Homo sapiens: one gene and its partner. The protein of the gene in region 1 purifies or fractionates together with the protein of each later gene. This does not show direct contact. Each region holds a gene or a part of one and is shown in the gene's direction. Other genes may lie near its edges. The genes, in order: CFAP65 and GART.

What was found.
Region 2: the proteins of CFAP65 (region 1) and GART fractionate together in Homo sapiens (co-fractionation; one large-scale study listed by BioGRID). This does not show direct contact.

The regions. Positions count from the first base shown.
Region 1 is NC_000002.12:219,021,012-219,024,826, reverse strand, and holds part of CFAP65 (cilia- and flagella-associated protein 65), read left to right. Parts: intron 1-566; coding exon 567-812; intron 813-1,395; coding exon 1,396-1,620; intron 1,621-2,497; coding exon 2,498-2,656; intron 2,657-2,896; coding exon 2,897-3,047; intron 3,048-3,546; coding exon 3,547-3,675; intron 3,676-3,815. UniProt on the Homo sapiens protein: Plays a role in flagellar formation and sperm motility.
Region 2 is NC_000021.9:33,507,565-33,511,379, reverse strand, and holds part of GART (trifunctional purine biosynthetic protein adenosine-3), read left to right. Parts: coding exon 1-128; intron 129-1,459; coding exon 1,460-1,597; intron 1,598-3,815. UniProt on the Homo sapiens protein: Trifunctional enzyme that catalyzes three distinct reactions as part of the 'de novo' inosine monophosphate biosynthetic pathway.

The DNA.
Region 1 (3,815 bases):
GTAGCTGAGATTACAGATGCACGCCACTACAACTGGCTAATTTTGGTACTTTTAGTAGAGATGGGGCTTCACCATATTGGCCAGGCTGGTCTTGAACTCCTGCCACAAGTGATCCACCTGCCTCAGCCTCCCGGAGTGCTGGGATTACAGGCAGGAGCCACCACACCCAGCCCGAAGTGGTTACTTACTGCAGCCCCAGAGCTTCTGGACCAGGCTCTCTGAAAATGAGTTCTCCAAAGAGTGATGCAAAGACACCCTAAAATGAAACAACTTCTACTTTATCCTTGAGGAACGGCCTTGGAGGCCTGAGTTTCCCAGGGGCCTGTGCCCCCGCCCCCCTGCCCCCCCCCCGCCCCTTTCTGGAGGTCTCTGGAGAACAAAAGCATTCTTTGGTGTCAGCTCGTGGCCTCCTTCAATTCCCCGTTCCCAGGGCGTTGACTGGGCTGCAGGGCAGCACCTCTGATCTACTTGGAGACAGCTCCTCCCAAGCCCCCATAGGGCCCTGAGTGTGTGTCCCAGGGTGGAGGTCTGAGCGGGGGGCCGCTTTCCTCCTCTCCCACCCCCAGCTATTTCCAGCAGTGTCCTCCGGTGAGCCCACCTACCGCAGCCTGCTCCTGGTCAACAAAGACTGCAAGCTGCTGACCTTCAGCCTGGCCCCCCAGAGAGGCTCAGACGTCATCCTTCGGCCCACTTCGGGCCTTGTGGCACCCGGGGCCCACCAGATCATCCTCATCTGCACCTACCCTGAGGGCAGCTCCTGGAAGCAGCACACTTTCTATCTGCAGTGCAATGCTTCCCCCCAGTATCTCAAGGTAGGAGGCAGAGGGAGGGGACCTGGGTCCTTGGGAATGGGCCATAATCTTGAACCACCCTTTTCAAGGCCATATTCTGGGGTTGGCCCCTAAGATTTCCAGGGGGCCACTTCTCCTCCAGGAAGTAGCATAGTAGGGAAAGAACCTGCTTGACCACTTCTGTGAACAACTCTCCCACCCCTCAGGGCCTTGCCTGTCCCCCTTATGGGGTCTGAGGCCAAGAAAGAGGGTGCAGAGAACCCAGAGGAAGGATCTGGGGGAGGCAAAAGACACCTGCAGGTGGTAGAGGGATATTTGGGTCCAGGCCAGCAATAGACTCTGAGATGGTGGGCCCATGTCTGGCCCCGTGGAATGGTCTATAGATCCTCTCTCAGTCCCTGAGTTCTTTTCAAGAATTATCTCCTGGGCCAGTCACCATTGACTCTGCTTTTGACAGAAACTGCCGGTACACGGGCTGGCAGAGGGCCTTTGACTGCCTGCTTCAAGTGGGGAAAGCTGCCTAGCCATGGCTTCCTGGACATGTTGTGGGGGGCTGGGACTGCAGAGTGAGGTCAGGGCACTGCCCTTCTTCCTCTGGCTCCAGGAGGTGAGCATGTACAGCCGGGAGGAGCCACTGCAGCTGAAGCTGGACACCCACAAAAGCCTCTACTTCAAGCCCACCTGGGTGGGCTGCTCCTCCACCAGCCCCTTCACCTTCCGCAACCCCTCGCGTCTGCCCCTGCAGTTCGAGTGGAGGGTCTCTGAGCAGCATCGAAAGCTGCTGGCTGTCCAGCCCTCCAGGGGGCTAATCCAGCCCAACGAGAGACTTGTGAGTGGCTCCCCTCCTGCCGAGTGACGGCAACCTTCACTTCTGTCATCTCTTATTTGTGCCTATCATAGCCCAGACTTGCCATGTGCAGCCCCCAATTCCATCCACAGTAACTTCCCCCACCTGGCGATGAGGTGTTATTATTACCCTCACCATCCCCCCACCATTTTACAAATAATTGAGGCTTGAGAAGGGGAAGCCATTTACTAAGATCATAAGTTAGGCCGTGCAGGGCTGGGACTGGAACCAGTGTTTCTGATGCCAGGCCTGAGAGGCATGTCACCTCCCCATCCATGGTCCCCAAAGCTGGGAGGTCATTGGGAGGGTGGGTTGCAGCAGCTGGATTTGGGCCCAAATGGCCAGCCACCAGTGAGGGTGAGGAAGGAGACTGTAGTCACAGTGGGGGTGCTGGCTGGGATTCAAAATAGCAGACCCCTGTCCCTAGTCTAGAACCTTACCGACGGGTTGGGGAGGCCAAACTTGGGACAAGAAGCACCAGCACAGGCATCTGTAAGAGCCAAGGGGACAGCCCCTCGGGGGGACAAGAGGCCTCATAGCCTGTGGAGTTGGCCTGGAATGTTGACATCCCGCTCCCACCCTCACTACTGTCTGACCCTGGGCAAGGGACCCCACTTCTCTGAACTTTCAGTTTCTCATCAGAAAATGAGGCATGGAAATAATACTACTGACCCCGTGGGGATATAGGATTGAGGGGATTGGGGAGACTCCATACATGTGCCGTGTACAATGCCTGGCATAGGGTAGATTCTGAGAAAGGGCTAACGTAGCATGACGCCCTGCCATGGGGCCTCGGATGGCCAGGTACCTGTGGAGGGGCTTCCGAAGGCCACTGCAGGGATCATTTCTGTGACCCCAGACGCTGACGTGGACCTTCAGCCCTTTGGAGGAGACCAAGTACCTGTTCCAAGTGGGGATGTGGGTCTGGGAAGCCGGCCTGTCCCCAAATGCCAACCCCGCTGCCACCACCCACTACATGCTCCGGCTGGTGGGCGTTGGGCTCACCAGCAGCCTCTCTGTGAGTGGGAGGGCTCTGGCAGGAGGGGGCTGGGGGAGAGGCCCGGACAGGTGGGAGGGAAGGCCCCAGGGAACCTCCCAAGGTGGGAGGGAAGGCCAAGAGGGCAGAGGATAGGAGCCCTCTGCCCCGGATACCCCAAACTTGCCCTTCCTTGGGGGATGCTCTGAAAATGGGGCTGGGAGAGTGGGGCTGTGGGCCTGGAGGAGCTCCCACTCCCGGCTGGCTGACTGTGGCCTCCAGGCAAAGGAAAAGGAGCTGGCCTTTGGGAATGTGCTGGTGAACAGCAAGCAGTCCAGGTTCCTTGTCCTCCTGAATGACGGCAACTGCACCCTCTATTACCGCCTCTACCTGGAGCAGGGCAGCCCTGAGGCCGTTGACAACCACCCCCTCGGTACTTGGGCCTGAGCTGGGACTGGGGCCAGGGGAGGTGGGAGGAGGTACTGGTTAAGACCGGTTAACCTGCTGGGCACACTGGCACGCGCCTGTAGTCCCAGCTCTTCAAGAAGCTGAGGTGGGAGTATTGCTTGAGCCCAGGAGTTCCACGCTGCAGTGCACTATGATCACAACTGTGAAGAGCCACTGCCCTCTAGCCTGGGCAACATAGCGAGACCCCACCTCTGAGCCTCAGCTTCCTCATCTGTTAAAAGGGGCACCAGGTGGCACCTACCTCACAGGGCTGCTAGGTGGGGAAAAGTGCTTAGCAGGTGCCAATGACACAAAGTTAGGTGTGGTCCCTCTGACCCAGGCTGGGAGGAGGGGCTCCACTCCCTGTTTCCTGCCTCAGGGCCTGCTGTCCTCCCCTGGTGCCCAGGGAAGGGTATCTACAAAGGAGCAGGAGGAATGGCTGGGCCTCCTCTACCCACTGACCCTCCGGCATCATCCCTGAGCAGCTCTGCAGCTGGACCGAACAGAGGGGAGCATGCCACCCCGGTCCCAGGACACCATCTGCCTGACTGCCTGTCCCAAGCAGCGGTCCCAGTACTCCTGGACCATCACCTACTCTCTCCTTTCCCACAGAGGTACCTAGACTGCCTGGCATAGAGAGTCGGGGCCGGGGAAATGCAGGATGAAGGGGGAGGGCTGTGTGAGGCAGTGGATGCCGAGCGTCAGGCAGAGCTGGCAGGGTGAGTGGGGTGTGCTGAGGTGTGCCTTTGGTGTC
Region 2 (3,815 bases), on another chromosome or scaffold:
AACATTTAACTGTGGGGTTGGCGCTGTCCTTGTGGTATCAAAGGAGCAGACAGAGCAGATTCTGAGGGATATCCAGCAGCACAAGGAAGAAGCCTGGGTGATTGGCAGTGTGGTTGCACGAGCTGAAGGTACTTGCTCCTTACTCATTTTTAGATATATAATTTTAGCTGTATAATTTTAGCTATACCTCAGCCTTGCCTCACAAGCTTTCTGCCCACCTTTTAGTGCAGCCATCGCTATGGCAACTATCTTTACACAGATGTAACATGACAGCACCCACCCCAGCGATACCACGTATCTCTTCATTTCTGCCTCAGAACTAAGCATTCATGCATGCACAGCCACACCCCACAGGATCGCTTCCCAAAGTAATCTCCCTACACACAAGACCTCATGGCTCTGCTGTCACTCAGCTCGATTCAAGGAATAGCGAGCAAGCACCCTGACAAGTACTGTATCAGTCAGGACTCTGCGAGAAGTGCTAGAACTTGGCAGAGGGGCAGAAAATCCACTCAGATTCACTAACAAAGACGTCACATGCTTGCTTTGGCAGGACACATACTAAAATTGGAACGATACAGAGAAGATTCACAAAAATAAAAAATAGAAAAAAAAAATGTCAGACCTTGTTGACTTTACCTGTATCTGCCTTTCTTTCCTCTATTGTGTAGGATTCATTTTCAAGCGGGTTCTCCAAATGCCGGAAAGATAACATCCTTCAGCTCACATTACAATAAGAAAGAGAGACCCAGCCGGGCGTGGTGGCTCACGCCTGTAATCCCAGCACTTTGGGAGGCCGAAGCGGGTGGATCACGAGGTCAGGAGATCAAGACCATCCTGGCTAACTCAGTGAAACCCCGTCTCTACTAATAAATACAAAACATTAGCCGGGCGTGGTGGCGGGCGCCTGTAGTCCCAGCTACTCGGGAGGCTGAGGCAGGAGAATGGCGTGAACCTAGGAGGCGGAACTTGCAGTGAGCCGAGATCGCGCCACTGCACTCCAGCCTGGGCAACAGAGCGAGACTCCATCTCAAAAAGAAAAAAAAGAGAGACCCTCTTTTTCTTAACATCGCATATCAAGCCTTTAAATGGCTTTGCTAGGTCACATGCTTATCCCCGAGACCAGGAGATCATGGCACTACTGTGGGTGGTCTCGCTAGGAAGATTTGGGGAGTAGGGGCAGAATACTGGCAGGCAGTCATATATATCCACCGTGCACTTCAAGATAGTGATGTGATCTGCAGCTTTTAGTTGAAGTAATTACATATGTTCACCTTTTGGAAGTTTTTATGAAAGAGTAGTGTTAAGTGATACAAATGTGTTGTTCATTTTAGTCCTTGCATTATCTTATTTTCAGGATAAAACATACCCTAAAGTTTTCATAAAATATTTTTCTTTCCATTATTCTTGTTAATTCACAATTGTTCTTTACTTATTTATGGATATGTTTGAAATGAAGGTTCCCCACGTGTGAAAGTCAAGAATCTGATTGAAAGCATGCAAATAAATGGGTCAGTGTTGAAGAATGGCTCCCTGACAAATCATTTCTCTTTTGAAAAAAAAAAGGCCAGAGTGGCTGTCTTAATATCTGGAACAGGTGAGATGTGGCTTCCCCTTCACTGTAGAGCTGTTGACTGCCCTTCCTTTCCTCCCCGCACTCTTGTGAGATTGTAAGGTTACTCTCGGCAGAGTCTAGGGACTGGGGGGAATCATGAGGGTTGTCTTTGTCTTTTCAGCATTCTTAGTCTTTCCACTTTTCTTAGGAATTTGAGACAGCTCCCAAAGAAAAAAGTAAAGGATGTCAGAAAGCTGGTTAAAGAGAAACCAGAAAAGATAGAAGCTACAGCTCATTTTGTATCATAGCTTTGTTGTTGAAAAGTCTGAAAACAGTTGAGGAATTTTTATTGTTATCTTATTAATTAGAAGAAGTTTATGTTTAACCTTTATGGATAGAGGGGTAAAGTAATAAGAGTATTGTATTCTCTCAGATGGATGTAGCCTGATTTTTTTCCCTCTATTGTAAGTAACACTGCTATGAACATTCTTGCAAATATTCAGTATGTTCTTAAATGCATATGTGATTTTTTTTTATTTGATGGCCAAGATCATAGTGATTCTTTTTGAGACAGTCTTGCTATGTTGCCCAGGCTAGAGTACAGTAGCTATTCACAGATGCAGTCATAGTACACTGCAGCTTCCAGCTCTGGCCTCAAGCAATCCTTCCGCCTTATTAGCCCCCCGAGTAGCTGGGACTGCAGGCATGCAGCACCACAACCAGCTCTGATACTTCTTCAGGATTCATTCCCAGAAGTTTAATTGCTTTACAGGTCGATCTTAAGGTTTTAATGTACTTTAGGCCCAAGTTGATAATAAAGCAAAGAAGCTATTGTAAGATGCAGCCATAAAAAAGAATAAAACCACATCATTTGCAGCAATATGGATGGAACTGGAGGCCATTATCCTGAGTGAACTGCCTCAGAAACAGAAAACCAGATATTGCATGTTCTCACTTATGAGTGGGAGCTAAACAGTGGGTACATGTGGACATAAAGATGGAAACAATAGGGCCGGGTGCTGTGGCTCACGCCTGTAATCCTAGCACTTTGGGAGGCTGAGGCGGGCGGATCACAAGGTCAAGAGATCGAGACCATCCTGGCCAACATGGTGAAACCCTGTCTCCACTAAAAATACAAAAATTAGCTGGGCATGGTGGCACACGTCTGTAGTCCAGCTACTCTGGAGGCTGAGACAGGAGAATTGCTTGAACCCTGGAGACAGAGGTTGCAATGAGCTGAGATTGCACCACTGTACTCCAGCCTGGAGACAGAGCAAGACTCCATCTCAAAAAAAAAAAAAAAAAAAAAGATGGAAACAATAGATACAAAACAGGGAAGTGTGGGAGAAGAGGTGAGGGTTGAAAATTTTTCTATCAGGTATAATGTTCACTATGTAGGTAATAGGTACACTAGAAGCCCAGTCCCCACCATTATACAACATTCCCATGTAATAAACAAGCGTGTGTACCCCCGAATCTAAAATTTTTTTTTTTTAAAGAAACTATTGTAAGAGTCATAGCATAGTGGTTTGTTCTTGAGAGGGTCAGTTTTTCTTGCTTAATTAAGCAGCTTATTTCTCATCAGTCAGTTTTAACATAATGTTATACTGTTTCTACTACAATGCTAGATCACAAGATACAGAATTTGTGGGAGCAATTACATATCCTAGGAGCAATTACATATCCTAAACCACGTCGTTTGCAGCAATATGGATGGAACTGGAGGCTATCCAGGAATATCTGTGCTTTTCACAATCTATTAATCCATTATCCCAAGAGGAAGGGAGTTTTTTTAATTTTTAATTTGTATGGGTACATGGTAGGTATATATATTTATAGGGTACATGAGATCTTTTGATACAGCCATACAACCTGTAATAATCACATCCCTGTAAATGGGGTATTCATCACCTCAAGCATTTATTCTTTGTGTTACAAACAATCCAGTTATTTTATTTCAGTTTTTTTTTGTTTTGTTTTTGTTTTTGTTTTTGAGATAGAGTCTCACTCTGTCGCCCAGGCTGGAGTGCAGTGGCGCAGACTCGGCTCACTGCAAACTCCGCCTCCCAGTTTCAAGTGATTCTTCTGTCTCAGCCTCCTGAGTAGCTGGGATTACAGGCACCTGCCACTATGCCTGGCTAATTTTTTGTATTTTTAGTAGAGATGGGGTTTCATCATGTTGGCCAGGCTGGTCAGGCTGGTCTTGAACTCTTGACCTCAGTATGATCCGCCTGCCTTGGCCTCCCAAAGTGCTGGGATT